4 linked regions of the Homo sapiens genome follow. The protein of the gene in region 1 purifies or fractionates together with the protein of each later gene. This does not show direct contact. Each region holds a gene or a part of one and is shown in the gene's direction. Other genes may lie near its edges.

The links.
Region 2: the proteins of ADA (region 1) and SERPINB5 fractionate together in Homo sapiens (co-fractionation; one large-scale study listed by BioGRID). This does not show direct contact.
Region 3: the proteins of ADA (region 1) and ATXN2L fractionate together in Homo sapiens (co-fractionation; one large-scale study listed by BioGRID). This does not show direct contact.
Region 4: the proteins of ADA (region 1) and ATXN2 fractionate together in Homo sapiens (co-fractionation; one large-scale study listed by BioGRID). This does not show direct contact.

What each region holds. Positions count from the first base shown.
Region 1 is NC_000020.11:44,648,834-44,652,949, reverse strand, and holds the start of ADA (adenosine deaminase), read left to right. Parts: upstream 1-1,250; 5' UTR 1,251-1,342; coding exon 1,343-1,375; intron 1,376-4,116.
Region 2 is NC_000018.10:63,479,889-63,483,538, forward strand, and holds part of SERPINB5 (serpin B5), read left to right. Parts: intron 1-3,650. UniProt on the Homo sapiens protein: Tumor suppressor. It blocks the growth, invasion, and metastatic properties of mammary tumors.
Region 3 is NC_000016.10:28,825,976-28,829,625, forward strand, and holds part of ATXN2L (ataxin-2-like protein), read left to right. Parts: intron 1-264; coding exon 265-415; intron 416-886; coding exon 887-1,011; intron 1,012-3,425; coding exon 3,426-3,517; intron 3,518-3,650. UniProt on the Homo sapiens protein: Involved in the regulation of stress granule and P-body formation.
Region 4 is NC_000012.12:111,515,786-111,519,435, reverse strand, and holds part of ATXN2 (ataxin-2), read left to right. Parts: intron 1-1,008; coding exon 1,009-1,187; intron 1,188-3,072; coding exon 3,073-3,282; intron 3,283-3,650. UniProt on the Homo sapiens protein: Involved in EGFR trafficking, acting as negative regulator of endocytic EGFR internalization at the plasma membrane.

The sequences.
Region 1 (4,116 bases):
CGCCTATAATCCCAGCTACTCGGGAGGCTGAGACAGGAAAATCGCTTGAAACGCTGGGGGTGCGGGGGAGCGGTGGGGAGGAGGCGGGCCAGAGGGGCAGAGGTTGCAGTGAGCCCAGATCGCGCCACTTCACTGCAGCCTCCGCGAAAGAGCGAAACTCCGTCTCAGTAAATAAATAAATAAATAAATAAATAAATAAATAAATAAATAAATAACCTGTACCCGCGTGTTATTTCCCTCCGTCCTTACCTCCTCCCGGCTCCTTCCCTTTCACCTGAGATAACCACTCTTCTCGTATCTATGCTCATCTTTCCCTTGCTTTACATTTTTTCCACCGATGCATGTGTCTAAACATACATACTTTTGGTTTTGCTTTTACACATTCTAAAAGTTGCACCATTGTATGCAGTTTTCCGCAACTTAGTTTTTTTCACTCAACATTGTTTCTGAGACATTGTTTCTGTTGTTGTCTGGCTGAAGTTCATTCCGTTTCACTGCTGTCTAACGTTTCATGGTGTGAATATTCCGGTTTATTTGCCCACTCGCCCGTGGAGGGGCATTTGAGGGTGTTTCCAATGTTCCTGTTATTCGGAATAGCGCTGGTGTGAACATTCTGCACAGGTCTCTGGCTGCGCCTGGGCGGGTTTCTTAAAGGTGAATGCCCAGGAGGGGACTGTCTGTGTTCTCCCTCCCTCCGAGCTCCAGCCTTCCTCGCCTCCTTTCACTCCCAGCTCCCTGGAGTCTCTCACGTAGAATGTCCTCTCCACCCCCACCCACCCCTGATGAACTCCTGCAGGTTCTGCAGGCCACGGCTGGCCCCCCTCGAAAGTTCCTTAACTATACAATTATGGTGTGTGTTTCTGCGACGAGCGTCCGTCTATCCGGTGGAAGGCACGCCGCTCGAGGCTTGCGATGCTCCCGGGGTCCCCGCTTCTAGCTTGGGCCTGGCGCACAGCAGCGCCCAGACTGCAGGGGGACGCTTGAAAGTTGCTGGAGGAGCCGGGGGGAAGGCAGCGCCCAGCGAGGCGGCTGGAGCGCGCGCCCACAGGTGGGTCCGGTCGGGCGCCGCGGGGCCGTAGTTTTCGGGTCGGCGGGCGAGGACGCCGGGTCCAGAATTCCAGGAAATGCGCGATCCAGGCCGGCGGGCGGGGCGGGGGCTCCGGCGAGAGGGCGGGCCCCGGGAACGGCGGCGGGCGGGGCGGGAGGCGGGGCCCGGCCCGTTAAGAAGAGCGTGGCCGGCCGCGGCCACCGCTGGCCCCAGGGAAAGCCGAGCGGCCACCGAGCCGGCAGAGACCCACCGAGCGGCGGCGGAGGGAGCAGCGCCGGGGCGCACGAGGGCACCATGGCCCAGACGCCCGCCTTCGACAAGCCCAAAGTGAGCGCGCGCGGGGGCTCCGGGGACGGGGGTCCGGCGCCTGGGCGGCCCGAGGGGCTTAGCGGGGCCCAGCCCGGGGCGTCCAAACCCTGGGAACGAACGGGGGCTCCTGCAGGCGAGTTCTTCCTTCGGCTTAGGCCGTGGCTTGCTTGCGGGCTAATCAGGGACAATGGGGCAGAGAAGGTCCAGAACCCGGAGGCCTCCAGAGTCTGCTTCTGCCCCTGACTTGACCCCTCTGGGTCTCAGTTTCGCTGTCTGTCAAGTGGGCATCCTAGCACCGCTGAGCGCTGTGTGGGCCTGGGCAGGGACTTGAGGTCTCTGAAGCTCAGCTGTATGATCAGGCCCGATGTCTACGCCGGATAGGCACCTAGTGCTGTGCCCGGCGCCTACTGAGTGCTCAGTGAATGGAAGCAGCTTTGTACGCCAGCGTTATGGTGGTGAGCGCCAAGGAGCTCAGGTTTGTGGATGCGCCCCGGGGAAGAACCGTGAGCCCTGCCAGAAAGGGGAGGGAGGGGAGCAGAGCACCCCCCTTCCCCCGCGCGGGAAGAACAGGAGCTAGGTAGGCCCTGGGTTTGGGGCCCTAGCAGGGTTCACTCGAGGCCAAGCCATGGCCACTGGCCCCAGGGGAGAATCCCCTTGTTTCTCCGCCCACCAGCTGTGGCGTCTTGGGACTGTTGGGGTCAGGGAGGGTCTGGACCCCCTTGGCCTGTCGCAGAGTCCGAGAGGAGGGGCCCAGGAGTCTGCCAAGCAGGGTGAGTCAGCCAGTAGGGTGTGAGAGTGGTTGGGGAAGGAGTCAGCTGCAGTCAGCCTCAACTTACCCTTCTAAGAAATAGGTGTGAGTGGCCCAGGAGGTTGGCTCACGCCTGTAATCCCAGCACTTTGTGAGGCTGAGGCGGGAGGATCATTTGAGTCCAGGAGTTTGAGACTAGCCTGGACAACAAAACTAGACCCCGTCTCTCCAAAAAATAAAAAAAGTTAGGGGAAGTGTGTGTGGTGGTGCACTCCCGTAGTCCCAGCTACTCAGGAGGCTGAGGCGGGAGGATCGCTTGAGCCCAGGAGGTTGAGGCTGCAGTGAGGTGTGATGGTGCCACTGCACTTCAGCCTGGGAGACAGAGCGAGACCCTGTCTCAAAAAAAAGAGAAGAAAAAGAAAAGAAAAGAAATAGGTGTGAATGATGATGACAGCTATCACAAAAGTGCCGGTGAGAATCCAGTGAGTGTGCATGTGTCAGTGAGGGAGACAGGCTGTGGAGAGCCCACCTACCTTCTGAGGAGGGTGAGGCCTGGCCCCCACTACTGATGCCCCCAGCCCAGGGAAAATGCTCAGCTACTCCCCGTCAGAAGCTGGAAGCACTGAGGTGCTGTACAAGCCCTCCTACCCCCACCCCTGCCTCCTTCACGTCTTACTGGAGCTGGGGCCCATGATTGGCGCCTCCCCTTTGCAGTCTTTTTATTAAATGCTCTGGGCTCCCTCTGCCCTTGGGCTGGGGACCCACTGTACCCTGATGTGAATCCTATGGCAATAGCAAAGCTCTTTGATTGGCGGGGTGCAGTGGCTCACGCCTATAATCCCAGCACTTTGGGAGGCAAAGGTGGGTGGATCATGAGGCCAGGAGTTCGAGACCAGCCTGGCCAACATGGCAAAACCCCATTTCTACTAAAAATATAAAAAATTAGCTGGGCATGGTGGCGGGCGCCTGTAGTCCCAGCTACGCAGAAGGCTGAGGCAGGAGAATGGCATAAACCCAGGAGGTGGAGCTTGCAGTGAGCCGAGATCTCGCCATTGCACTCCAGCCTGGGTGACAGAGTGAGACGCTGTCTCAAAAAAAAAAAAAAAAAAAAAAAGGCTCCTTGATTGCGAACATGTTGGGAGTTATGGAGAGAACAGCAGGGCCCACTTCTAGAGCACTTGTTGCAGACACCCATTGGATCCTTGCAGTTCTTCTGTAACAGCCCATCAAGGGAGGGGCTCATATTATTATCCCCATTTTTTGGCCTTGCTCAGTCCTCCCATCTGATTCAAGCTGGCAGATCATTTTCCCTATTGGGACCTCAGTGTCCACACCTGGAGGATGGAACATCAGCTGCTTATGTGGGTGTCCCGTGTCCTGAGTCCCAAGGCCACAAGGTGATGCTTGAGAGTGAAGGTAGAATGTTACCTGCCATGTGTTTGAGGCGTGACAAATCTTGTATGATTGTGAGGAGGAACTTGTGTGAGCTGGCAGGAGAAGTGGGAAGGAGTGTGAATCTCAGAGCCACTGTGACCAGAGCCAGCTCCCTGCCCTCTTGTGGGAGGGACAGATGACAGTTATAATTATTAGCATTACTAGCTGCAGCTAATGGAGTGTTGATGTTTCTGTGCCAGGCACCGTTCTAAACACATTATCTGCATTTTTTATTTAATCCAGGCACAGAGAGGTTAACTAGGCCCAAGATCACACAGCTAGGAAATGTCCAATCTGGGGTTTGAGTCCAAGGGAGGCTGGCTTCGAAATCCCATGCCTCTAACCATCTTTCCTAAACTACCTCTGCAGAAGCCTTTGGGGATAGAGGTGCCAGTGCCCCAGGTGCAAACCTCCTGAGACAGGAGCCTTTGCTGTGTCCTTCAGCTTCTCATACCTGCCACCAGCTGAGGCCTGGGACCTGGTCAGCTAGAAGAAAGCAGAGCAGGGCAGCGCTTTTCAAACTGCACTCAAGTGGCCTGACTTTTAATGTTCACACTGTGATTCTGTGTGGGTCGGG
Region 2 (3,650 bases), on another chromosome or scaffold:
ATATGTTGATATCTTCAAGGGGAGACTTCAGGACATGCAGGATTTTTGGAACTCGAGAGACTTCTGAGAGAACAAATGCCAGCAAAGATGCAATTAACAAGAAAGCAGGTGATCAGGTGTGGCGGGGAAGTGCCAGGCTGGGAGCTAGAAGCAATGAATTCTAGGTCTGGTTTTGCCACTCTCACTCCCTGCGTGGGTGGCCTGGGAGACTCACTTCATCTTTGTCTGCCTCATTTTCCTCATCTGTAAAATGAAGAGGTGTGGCCAGCCTAGATCCTCTCCAAGATCTTGTCCCACTTTCAAGGTTTATAATTTGCACAGATTGCGAAAGCAAGGTACTTGGAAATAAGTTCTTAAAACTGCATTTGTATTACTGCTTGAACTTCCATCTATCTCACTTTCCTATGGTTAAAATAAAGTTCCTTTTAAACTTTTAAGTGCTGAAAGATGTAGCGTTTTCTACATTGCAACTATAAACGAAGTTCTCCTTGTTAAAATGGTTACAGGGTTTTCACAGAAATGGAAGAAGACCCTTGTGACAAGGCAACAGAATGAAAAAAAATTTGTAGCAATTTTAGCACTTTCAACAGAAGTCATTAGGCACATTAAATTTATTATATAGGAATTGCTAATCTCTACTCTGGTACTTGCAATTTTATAGCATTTGATCATGCAAAATGGTCTGTGTAGGAAGTTTGTATTTTTTCCAGGTCATGTATTGTTAACATTGCTGAGGTTTGTTTAAATGCTTTGATTGTCTTGCAACACAGTCATGTGGCAACTGTGGCCAAAGTCATCTTTTGAGCTACCTCAGACCAGATCAACTTTATAGTGTTTTTAGGTCACTTGGGACTAATCACAGAGCCACTGATCAGATTTACCGGGCAGTATTTGATTGATTACTTAGTGGGTGATTTTTTGCAACTACAACCTTTTCCATGTACAGACCTTTTCTGTTTCCTTTAGCCAGCATCAAACAATGCTCTTGCCACTGGGACCCCAGATACTAAGGGCTGTATGACCTTCCCAGACATGAAGGAGAATTTTCTGAGAAAGGAGCCAGTCAGCATAGGAACAGGAAGGCAGATCTCTTTGCGTTCATGCACTGAGGATTAGCATGCAAAGGAAGGGACTCACTCAAAGGGAAGGTCCGCCAATGGTGAGAGAAAGCCCCAGAGATGTTAGGATGTCAGATGTGCACTGATTTACATCTCCAACAGGGACCTGGATCTAAGCCTTGAATTGCAACACAGCATTAATTGTATTGTGTAATTAACTACACTAAAAGCCACAATGATCTTGTATCCACAATCATTTAGACTAAATGTATCTCAAAATGTTGTGACAAGTGAATGAATAATGCTTTAGTGAAATAAAATGGTAAAATGAACATCTCCTCACCATTTGATCCACTCCTAAGATCCATTTGTAGGTGTTTGCAGCCAAACTCCCTCAGCACATTAAGATCTTAAACACCATCTTTCTATACAAAGGAAATCACTAAAAGTATAGTTTGTTATTGACTATGCAAAATTATTCTAGTTTCTCTTGGAGGATAATAAATACGTGCTTGGAGGAGCTACTTGTGTTTGTTAAAGCAGTTTGTGTGTTTTCATATTATTATCAGTGCGATTAGCTCTCCACTGGTGGAAGTGTTAAGAAGCTTTCAGGGATCTGGGTTTAGGCTTCTCTATTTGGTGAAGAAATAACTCATTACTTCTTGTACATGTTGAGTTTTACTTGTAGATGAACTTGGCATTACTAATATTAAATGTGCTGTGGAAGGAAGCCAGGTTTCCTATTCTGAAAGTCTGTCCACAGATTCCCCAAACCTTTTGTGAAGAGTTTCTTTATGTTTTCCCAGTGGCAGGCACACTGGGTGAAACACTCAACAGGCTTTCATTTTTGCCTCAGTATACCCTGCTGACCTCAGTATACACCTAATGCCAGTCACCTTTCCCTGGGGTGTGATGTCACCTGTAGGCCCTTGCCCCTGCCCTGAGGGGAGAAGGAGTAAGGTTGTGGGCTTTAAAGAAAAGTGAGAGGCCCACCTGACTTCAGGGGGCCTCGTGGTATATTTGCAATGGGAACTGGCCTGAGCGCATGGCTGTACTTATCAGGGACATATGGAGAAGGAGGAAGCCCATGGAAATGACCAGTGAGCATGAACAGAGTCAATAAAACATTATTTTTGGATAATGAACTCGCTTTTTCAGACTCTGAGATATAATCGATTTAAGTCCATCCTACACACAAGCCATATATCCCATAAAAGGGAGAATTCTGAAGAAATGTTTAAAGACCAGGAGTCCTCTCCTCCATCTTATTCTCGTCTTTGCATTCTGAATTTGTGTCCAGGTATAAGGTGCAAATTGCAATCCTATTCATCATGCCTTTGACTCTTGACACACGTTTGGGTACTGGCCAAAGGGAGTCCTCTATCTTAAGCAGTGGAGCTTACTTTCTAATGCCAGGGTGCATGTCCTACCTGAAGACCTTCAATGTCACATTCGGCCCTTGTGTCTGTGTGTGTGCGCCTGAGGCTTTGGGGGAACACTTCGAGTTTAATCCCTGTACTGCTCACCCCGGGGTAGTAATATCAATTCATTTCCCTTAGAAACATGCTGTCCTGGCTTAGGCAGAACCTCAGGAGTTCATGTAGTTCAGCTCTGCTCCCAGAAAGGGAAGCCCTGACTGCCTGAATTTACCTAATTGTCTTTGGAGTCGATCAGTAACTACCAGACTAAATAGGTAGGTAGACCTTTATTAGAACAGTGAAGCTTTTTAAATCTGAGGACCCTGTTACACTCTTAAAAATTACCGAGGACCCCAAAGAACTGTTTCTTTAAAAAAAATGTAGATTATATCTATCACTATTTACCAAACTAGAAATGAAAACCAGACACATTTTGAAATGTTCATTTACTAATTTATTAAAATAATATAATAATTAAATACTAATATGAATAATATATATATTAAAAAACATTTTCTAAAGTGAAAAAATGTAATGAGAAGAGTGATATTGTTTTTCATTTTTGCAAATCTCCTTAATATTTGGCTTAATAGAAGGGATGTCATATAGCCTCTGGAAAACTCCGCTGTCTATTAGAGATTGAGAATGATAATGTCTTAGTATTATCATGAGAATAGTTTTAACCTCATGGACCTCCTGAAAGGGTGTTAGGGACTGCCAGGAGTCAAGACACAACACTTTGGAAGTTGCTGTGTTAAAATTAAAGAGCTCTGAGATGTGACAAGATGCCTAGTTGCTGCTATATCCACTTTACCAGGCTACATATTTTGAAACTGTTCCCTCTTTTCTTTAACTCCCATATTACTTATTATACCACTCACATGTCTTGGGCAGCTCTGTATTCTAGTTATTTGTCTGCATATCTGCCCAAAGAGACTATGAGCTTAGAGAAGGAGGAGGTCCACTGATCCTTGTAACACTCTGGGTAGTGTCTTACACACAGATGCGTATTATAAACGCAAACAATAACCGCTGCTGTTTATTAAGTATTGTTATGTGCTGGGTGTCCTGCAAAGGCATTAGTTACTTTAAGGGTTTTCTAGCACTTCTCACAAAGCACCACAAACCAGGCAGCTTAAAGCAACAGAAGCTTTATTCACCCACAGGCTTGGAG
Region 3 (3,650 bases), on another chromosome or scaffold:
TGCAGGGAAAAAAGACAAATTTGAGGGCTGGGTACTTTAATGTTAAAATATTTAAGTTTAAATTTTTGTGAGACTTTTGCTAAGTCCTGTGGCTGATGTTGAGAAAACAATGCACTTGGTTCCAAGCATGTTGAGGATGTAGTGTTGTGAAAAGTTTGGGAAGGGTAAGAGAAATCCAGTTCTATTTAAGAGAAATCCAGTTCTATTTTTGCCTTCACTTTTCTTGAAACTGACCCATGGGTGTGGGGAATGGGGTGTTTGTAGTTTGAACTAGCCGTGGATGCTGTGCACCGGAAAGCATCTGAGCCAGCAGGTGGCCCTCGTCGGGAGGACATTGTGGACACCATGGTGTTTAAGCCAAGTGATGTCATGCTTGTTCACTTCCGAAATGTTGACTTCAACTATGCTACTAAAGGTATTGTCCTAGGCTGTTACCTCAGACCTGCTCTGTGTGCATAGAGGACAGAGGGTAGTTTGTGTGCAGGTGGAACATGGTGATGTGTTTGGTTTGTTTTTTTGTTTTTGTTTGTTTGTTTTGCTTTAATGCCTTTTTTTTCCTGAGCGAAGTGGGTGGATTTTTCTTCTTAAAAATATGTCTTGATGTCTAATATATAATGCGATGAATTCCTGTCTGTGTTGTGGTTCTTCATATTTTCTTTGCTTGGTTTTTAACTTCTTTTTTCTTTGGAATCATAGTACTGATAGACTTTTTATACTCTTCTTCTCTTGCCTCCCCACCCCCTGGCCATCCTAACACACGGGCACACGTACTCTGGACTTCTTAAACTTTGTTCCTGAACTACTTACGGAGAGTGGGGTTGGGGGATATTGGAAAGAAGTCTGTGAAATATAGCCTGACTCCTGATCTTCACCTCTGCCCCCACAGACAAGTTCACCGATTCAGCCATTGCCATGAACTCGAAAGTGAATGGGGAACACAAAGAGAAGGTGCTTCAGCGCTGGGAGGGGGGTGACAGCAACAGCGACGACTATGACCTCGAGTCTGACATGGTATAGCCTCCTTCCCTGAGAACTTGGGAGCTGGACAGACAGAATGGGTTGTTGACAGTGAGGTTCATTTGAGTGGGGAGGGAAATATTTACTGTTGCCCATTGATGGTAGTCAGATAACAAATAGAAAGGTATAGAAAATAGCAAAGTAAAAATATCTATTCTTAGCTGGGTGCAGTGGCTCATGTTTGTAATCCCAGCACTTTGGGAGGCCAAGGCCGGTGGGTCACTTGAGGCAAGGATTTCGAGACCAGTCTGGGCAACATGGTGAAACCCTGTCTCAACAAGATATATAAAAGCTATCAAGGTTTGGTGGCATGTACCTGTAGTCCCAGCTACTTGGGAGGCTGAAGTGGAAGGATCACTTGAGCCCAGGGAGGTCGAGGCTACAGTGAGCTGTGATCATACCACTGCACTCCAGCCTGGGTGGACCGTGTCACACGCAACAAAACCAAAACATCAACTTACTCTCTTACTATCTATAATTAACCACTCCTAGCATTTGCATCACGTTATTTTTCAACATAACAAAAAGTATAGATTAATGTGTAGGCCCATTTCTCTTCCCAAAATCAGCTACTCTGAGGCATTTAAAATCTCATGAGGCTGAGCGCAGTGGCTCATGCCTGTAGTCCCAGCTACTTGGGAGGCCAAGGCAGGAGCTCCGATCACTTGAGCCCAGGAGTTTGAGGCTGCTGTAAGCTGAGATTGTGCCACTGGACTCCAGTCTGAGCGACAGTGAGGATGTCTCAAAAAAATAAATAAAAACCGCTCATGAATAGAGCTGAGCGTGGTGGTCCCACACCTGTAGTCCCAGCTACTCAGGAGGCTGAGGTAGGAGAATCATTTGAAGCTTTGGTGCACTATGACTCAACTTGTGAATGGCCACTGTGCTCCAGCCTGGGCATCATAGCGAGACTATCTGTTGAGAAACAAATGTCTTGTGAATGAATATATTATTGTTTTGTTATGTTTAGTTTGTACAAGAATTTGCTTTTCTTGCCTTTTCGAACTTCTCATGGTTGTACGTAGATCTAGTTCTTTGCTTCTATTGTTGTGTGCTGTTTTCAAATATACACACACACGTGTACACAGCAAATTGTATTTGTCCTTTTCCTTAATCATCTGCATTTGGTTGCCATTATTTTGCTACTAAAAATAGTACCTTGCTGGACTTTTAGAACATATATTCCCCACGCACATGTGCCAGAATTTTTCTGGGATGTCTTGGAAATAGAATTGTTAGGTCTTATGACTTTTCAGGTTTACTAGTTATTGATAATTTCTGCTGCAGTTGTTAGTAATCATTAACAGTTGCAGGCCGGGCGCGGTGGCTCACACCAGTAATCCCAGCACTTTGGGAGGCCAAGGCGGGCAGATCACCTGAGGTTGGGAGTTTGGAACTAGCCTGACCAACGTGGAGAAGCCCCATCTCTACTAAAAATACAAAATTAGCTGGGCGTGGTGGCACATGCCCGTAATCCCAGCTACTCGTGAGGTTGAGGCAGGAGAATCGCTTGAACCCAAGGAGACGGAGGTTGCGGTGAGCCAAGATCGCACCATTGCACTCCAGCCTGGGCAACAAGAGTGAAACTCTTTGTCTCCAAAAAAAAAAAAAAAATTGCAGTTATTAATTACAATTATTAGTTGATTACTTTTGCCAGCCACGTTCCAATTTTTTTTCCACTCTTGTTTTGTCGTTTATTTTTGAGACGAGCTTGCTCTGTTGCCCGGGTTTTTGTTGTAGTTGTTTGTTTTTGTTTTTGTTTTTGTTTTTTTTGGAGACAGGGTCTCACTCTGTCACTCAGGCTGGAGGCTGGAGTGCAGTGGCTCGATCTCAGCTCACTGCAACCTCTGCCTCCCAGGTTCAAGCGATTCTTCTGCCTCAGCCAGGACTGCAGGCATGCGCCACCACGGATGGCTAATTTTTTATTTTTAGTAGAGACGGGGTTTCACCATGTTGGTCAGGTTGATCTCCTGACCTCAGGTGATCCACCCACCTCCCAAAGTGCTGGGATTACAGGCATGAGCCACCACGCCCAGCTAGTCGCCCAGGCCAGAGCGCAGTGGTGCCATAATAATTCACTGCAGCCTCAAACTCCTGGGCTCAAGTGATCCTCTCTCCTCAATCTCCTGAGTAGCGAGTAGCTAGGACCCCAGGCATGCACCACCACACCCGGCTGTTTCATTATTTTTTTCTAGAGATGAGCTCTTGCTGTGTTGCCCAGTCTGGCCTTAAACTCCTGGCCTCAGGAGAGCCTCCTGCCTCAGCTTCCCAAAGTACTGGGATTACAGGTTTCAGCCACTGTGCCCAGCCAATTTGTTCACATCTTGGAGTTTTTAACCTGATGGAAGGGAAGTGACTTGTCGTTGCTTTTCCTGCTGGGTTTTAAAACCACCTTCCTCCCTCCCCAGTCCAATGGATGGGACCCCAATGAAATGTTCAAGTTCAATGAGGAGAACTACGGTGTGAAGACTACCTATGATAGCAGTCTTTCTTCTTATACGTGAGTATCTTGGTGCTCTCCAGGTGATGTGTTGGTGATATGGGGTCACTAAGTGAAGACAGGTTTCCAGGTAGAACATAGTTTTTGCTCATTTTTCTCTGGGTGTCCAGGGTCGCCATCCCTACTCCTACTC
Region 4 (3,650 bases), on another chromosome or scaffold:
GTTGGGAGAAGAGTTTATCACCTGATGAAAAGCCATGTACAAGCATGGCTATGAGAAAATTTGGCCAGCTCAGGAGAGGGCTGGTTGTTGCATGTGTCTGGAACACAGGATCTGTGTCAGGTGCAGCAGTGGCAGTTGATAGTAGGAACTGAGGTCATTAAAGGACTTGGCATGTCATGCTAAAGAGCACCCTGTTGGAAGGAGATGGGGTGAATAAACCCTGGGGCATTGAGGACTGGCTGAGACACAGAGAACAGTTAGTGCACTGAAATAGTTCAACTGTGAGAATTTGGTAACCACCTAGTTAAGGGATGAGCCTGAGGTTTATTTGATAACTAAGTGACTTAATGGATGTACTGGTAAGAGAGAGAGGAAACATGGAGCAAGTTTGAGGGGAAAAACAGTGACTCCGTTTGTGCAGCTAATTGCATATGTGGGCTTGTGGGTCTTTCATTTATTCATAAACGTGTTGAGAAATACCTGCTACCTATCTAGTAAAGTAAGAGATGCATCCTCTCTTAAAGGCAGTCAGCTTAGAGTCTGGTGATTTGAATTGACATGTCCACTGATAGATGTTGACACTGTGAGACTGGCGGTTCAGTTTGAGGTTTCATCAGCATTGCCGATATTGGAGCCATGAAAAACCAAAGAACAGCCAGTGAGAGAAGAGATCTCAGAGAAAATAAAATTGAGAAAGTGAAGGACAAAAAATGTTGTGAAGATAGACCAAGATTGATGGAATCAGCCATAGAGAGGTCAAGTGGGATGAGAATGAGCACGCATCTGTTAAACTTTGTGCTTAGGAGCAGAATCTAAGGGAAGGGACAGTCCAGAGGTTAGAACTCAGGGTAAGATGGAAGAACAGGGGCATCTGGGAGTGAGGCAGTTTGGTTTAGTGTAGAACCTTTTTGTAACAAGCATTCCCTTCTGTCTAGATGACTTTTAGATATGTTTCATTGGCTTGGTACCTTTTAGAATAAAATGATTTAGAGGATCTCTCATTTTCAGGGAAAATAAATATATTCCTCCTGGACAAAGAAATAGAGAAGTCATATCCTGGGGAAGTGGGAGACAGAATTCACCGCGTATGGGCCAGCCTGGATCGGGCTCCATGCCATCAAGATCCACTTCTCACACTTCAGATTTCAACCCGAATTCTGGTTCAGACCAAAGAGTAGTTAATGGAGGCAAGTATTTTGACCAGACTTGTCAATATCATTGATAAAATAGTTTTCTAAATACTTAAAATACTTAAAATAGTTTACATAACTGATATGAATGTGCACTTTAATGATTTGGTGAGTAGCTTTCACTTCAGCATTACTTAAAATTGGCTTTTGTGGATATTAAATTAGTAAAACATTGTATATGTCATTGACATATATATTATTTAGCATGATGAAATATTCATGATGTACTAAGATAAAGTGCTACATTTAACCCAAGACAATCACTTGGCCAAAAACACTTCACATATAAAGAAATTGGAAACTTTGGGTAGGTTCTCAATTTTAAAAACACTGGATAATAAAATTTTTTAGACATAATTTATATGGAAAATTCTAACCTATGTGCAACACTGTGGTTAATATAGATCAATTTTCATTATTTGTTTCTATATTATGCTTACTTCAAGAAAGGATCTGAGGTAACTTATAATACAAGACATGATCAAGAGTCATGTGAAGAAAGTGACTAGAGAAATTTGCTTAAAAAACAACAAAAACAACCCTTAGTCTAAGGGTGGATGTTACAGTTTAGCAACTTAAGTAAAAGAAACCTGAATCTTTAGTAGGAAGACATTTTTTACTCTACCTCTAAATCTAGGTTGAATATATCTTGTAGGTTGTGGATCTTTTCCATAAATCAGGGATACTGAACAACAGTTCTATGGATGGTATGGAAATAGTAATAGCAATAGTATGTTACTAACTTTGTGGGAAAAGAGTGGACATTCAATTTTAGCTATTTAAATTTGGAAAGTTAGATGAAAATAGAGAACACTAAGTTTCCAATTTCATTTGTTTTCATTGAGTCTTTTCTCCAGAATTCCTCTCCAAATGGACACTCTTGAGTATTTTCAGTACTTAATATTGGGGGTGAAATTTCTTTGCTCACTGAGGAAAGATTTTAGTTGTTTATAAACAGAATTTTAAAGTTAAAAAACCTGAAGGGGGCTGAGAAATATATGATACTTAAGTGTGTGGAACCCTATGGAGAGGAGACCTGGACTGTTTGATAAGATTAAGGTAAGTGATATGTAATGTTAAATACTAGCTGTATCTTTACCTAGGCATATCCATCAGTATAAATTTATTTGGTGATGACTGCTTTGTAGTTGCAGTATTTATTAAGCAGTCGCTTAGATAAGTGTTTAACTGTATAAATTATTTAGAAGGTCTCCCTTTTTCTAGTTTAATGAGGTCAAGACTTTTTTTTTGAAATAGCAATGAATATTATCATTTGATACTCACAGGAGTCACAAACTCTAGAAGAGTAATGTTTTATTTCTACTTAAATGGGACTTGCTTAATAAGATTCCAAACTGAGTTCTGGGTTCAAGTGTAAACCTGATGAAAATCATAGATAATTGTAAGGAACCAGCATTTCTAATTGGATATAATAGCTACTGCTTATTTTCGTTATGCCTCAGAGTTAAAACTAATACAGTAAATAATCTTACTCCTGAGTAGGAATTATTGTGATTTATTATGTGAAATTATCTAGTGTATGTTATATTCCTTTAAACAACCAGTTACTGAGAAACAGTTATAGAAGCAGGATTAATAGGCAAAGTCTTAACTGTCTTCTTCAATAGTGTGTATAGATCCTAATTAACCCTTTGGGAACGTGTATTCATTTAAACAGACTTAATCTTAAGGAGGTTAAAGTAAAATGTGAATTTATGTCAGTTAAGTTATGCTAAAACTTATCACAAATCAAATGACTGTCCTCAAAGGGTTAAAATGTACAAGAAATCATTTTTGTCATTTTACTTTTTTTCTGTTTACTTTTTTCCCTCATTTTTTTCTTTAGTTTTTATACTTTCCTTCATATCATTTGTTCTGTCAGGTGTTCCCTGGCCATCGCCTTGCCCATCTCCTTCCTCTCGCCCACCTTCTCGCTACCAGTCAGGTCCCAACTCTCTTCCACCTCGGGCAGCCACCCCTACACGGCCGCCCTCCAGGCCCCCCTCGCGGCCATCCAGACCCCCGTCTCACCCCTCTGCTCATGGTTCTCCAGCTCCTGTCTCTACTATGCCTAAACGCATGTCTTCAGAAGGTACAATACCACAATTTGTTCATGTTTTTGTTTGTCTTTGTTTAACTCCTATGTGAGTTTATAATTACAAAATAGTTTCCTCTTCATTATTTAATAACCTATAATTTCTGTGTTTTAACTTTAGTTTATTAAAACTATTTCTATTAACCTTTTGTTCATTAGAGAGAAATTTGATAAATGTGTGAAGCTATAAACTCTCTTGAATTGTTGTTAAAAAGGGGGTTTATCTCTGCCTGATAATTATGCTTCTTTACAGCCCCAGAAGGGTCTGCCCCACAGCCTTCCCCCTCCTTATTTGCACTGTATACAGTAGTTAAACAAATGAACTTTCTTCAGCCAGTCTTGAACTTAGGTTCATTTTACAGCTC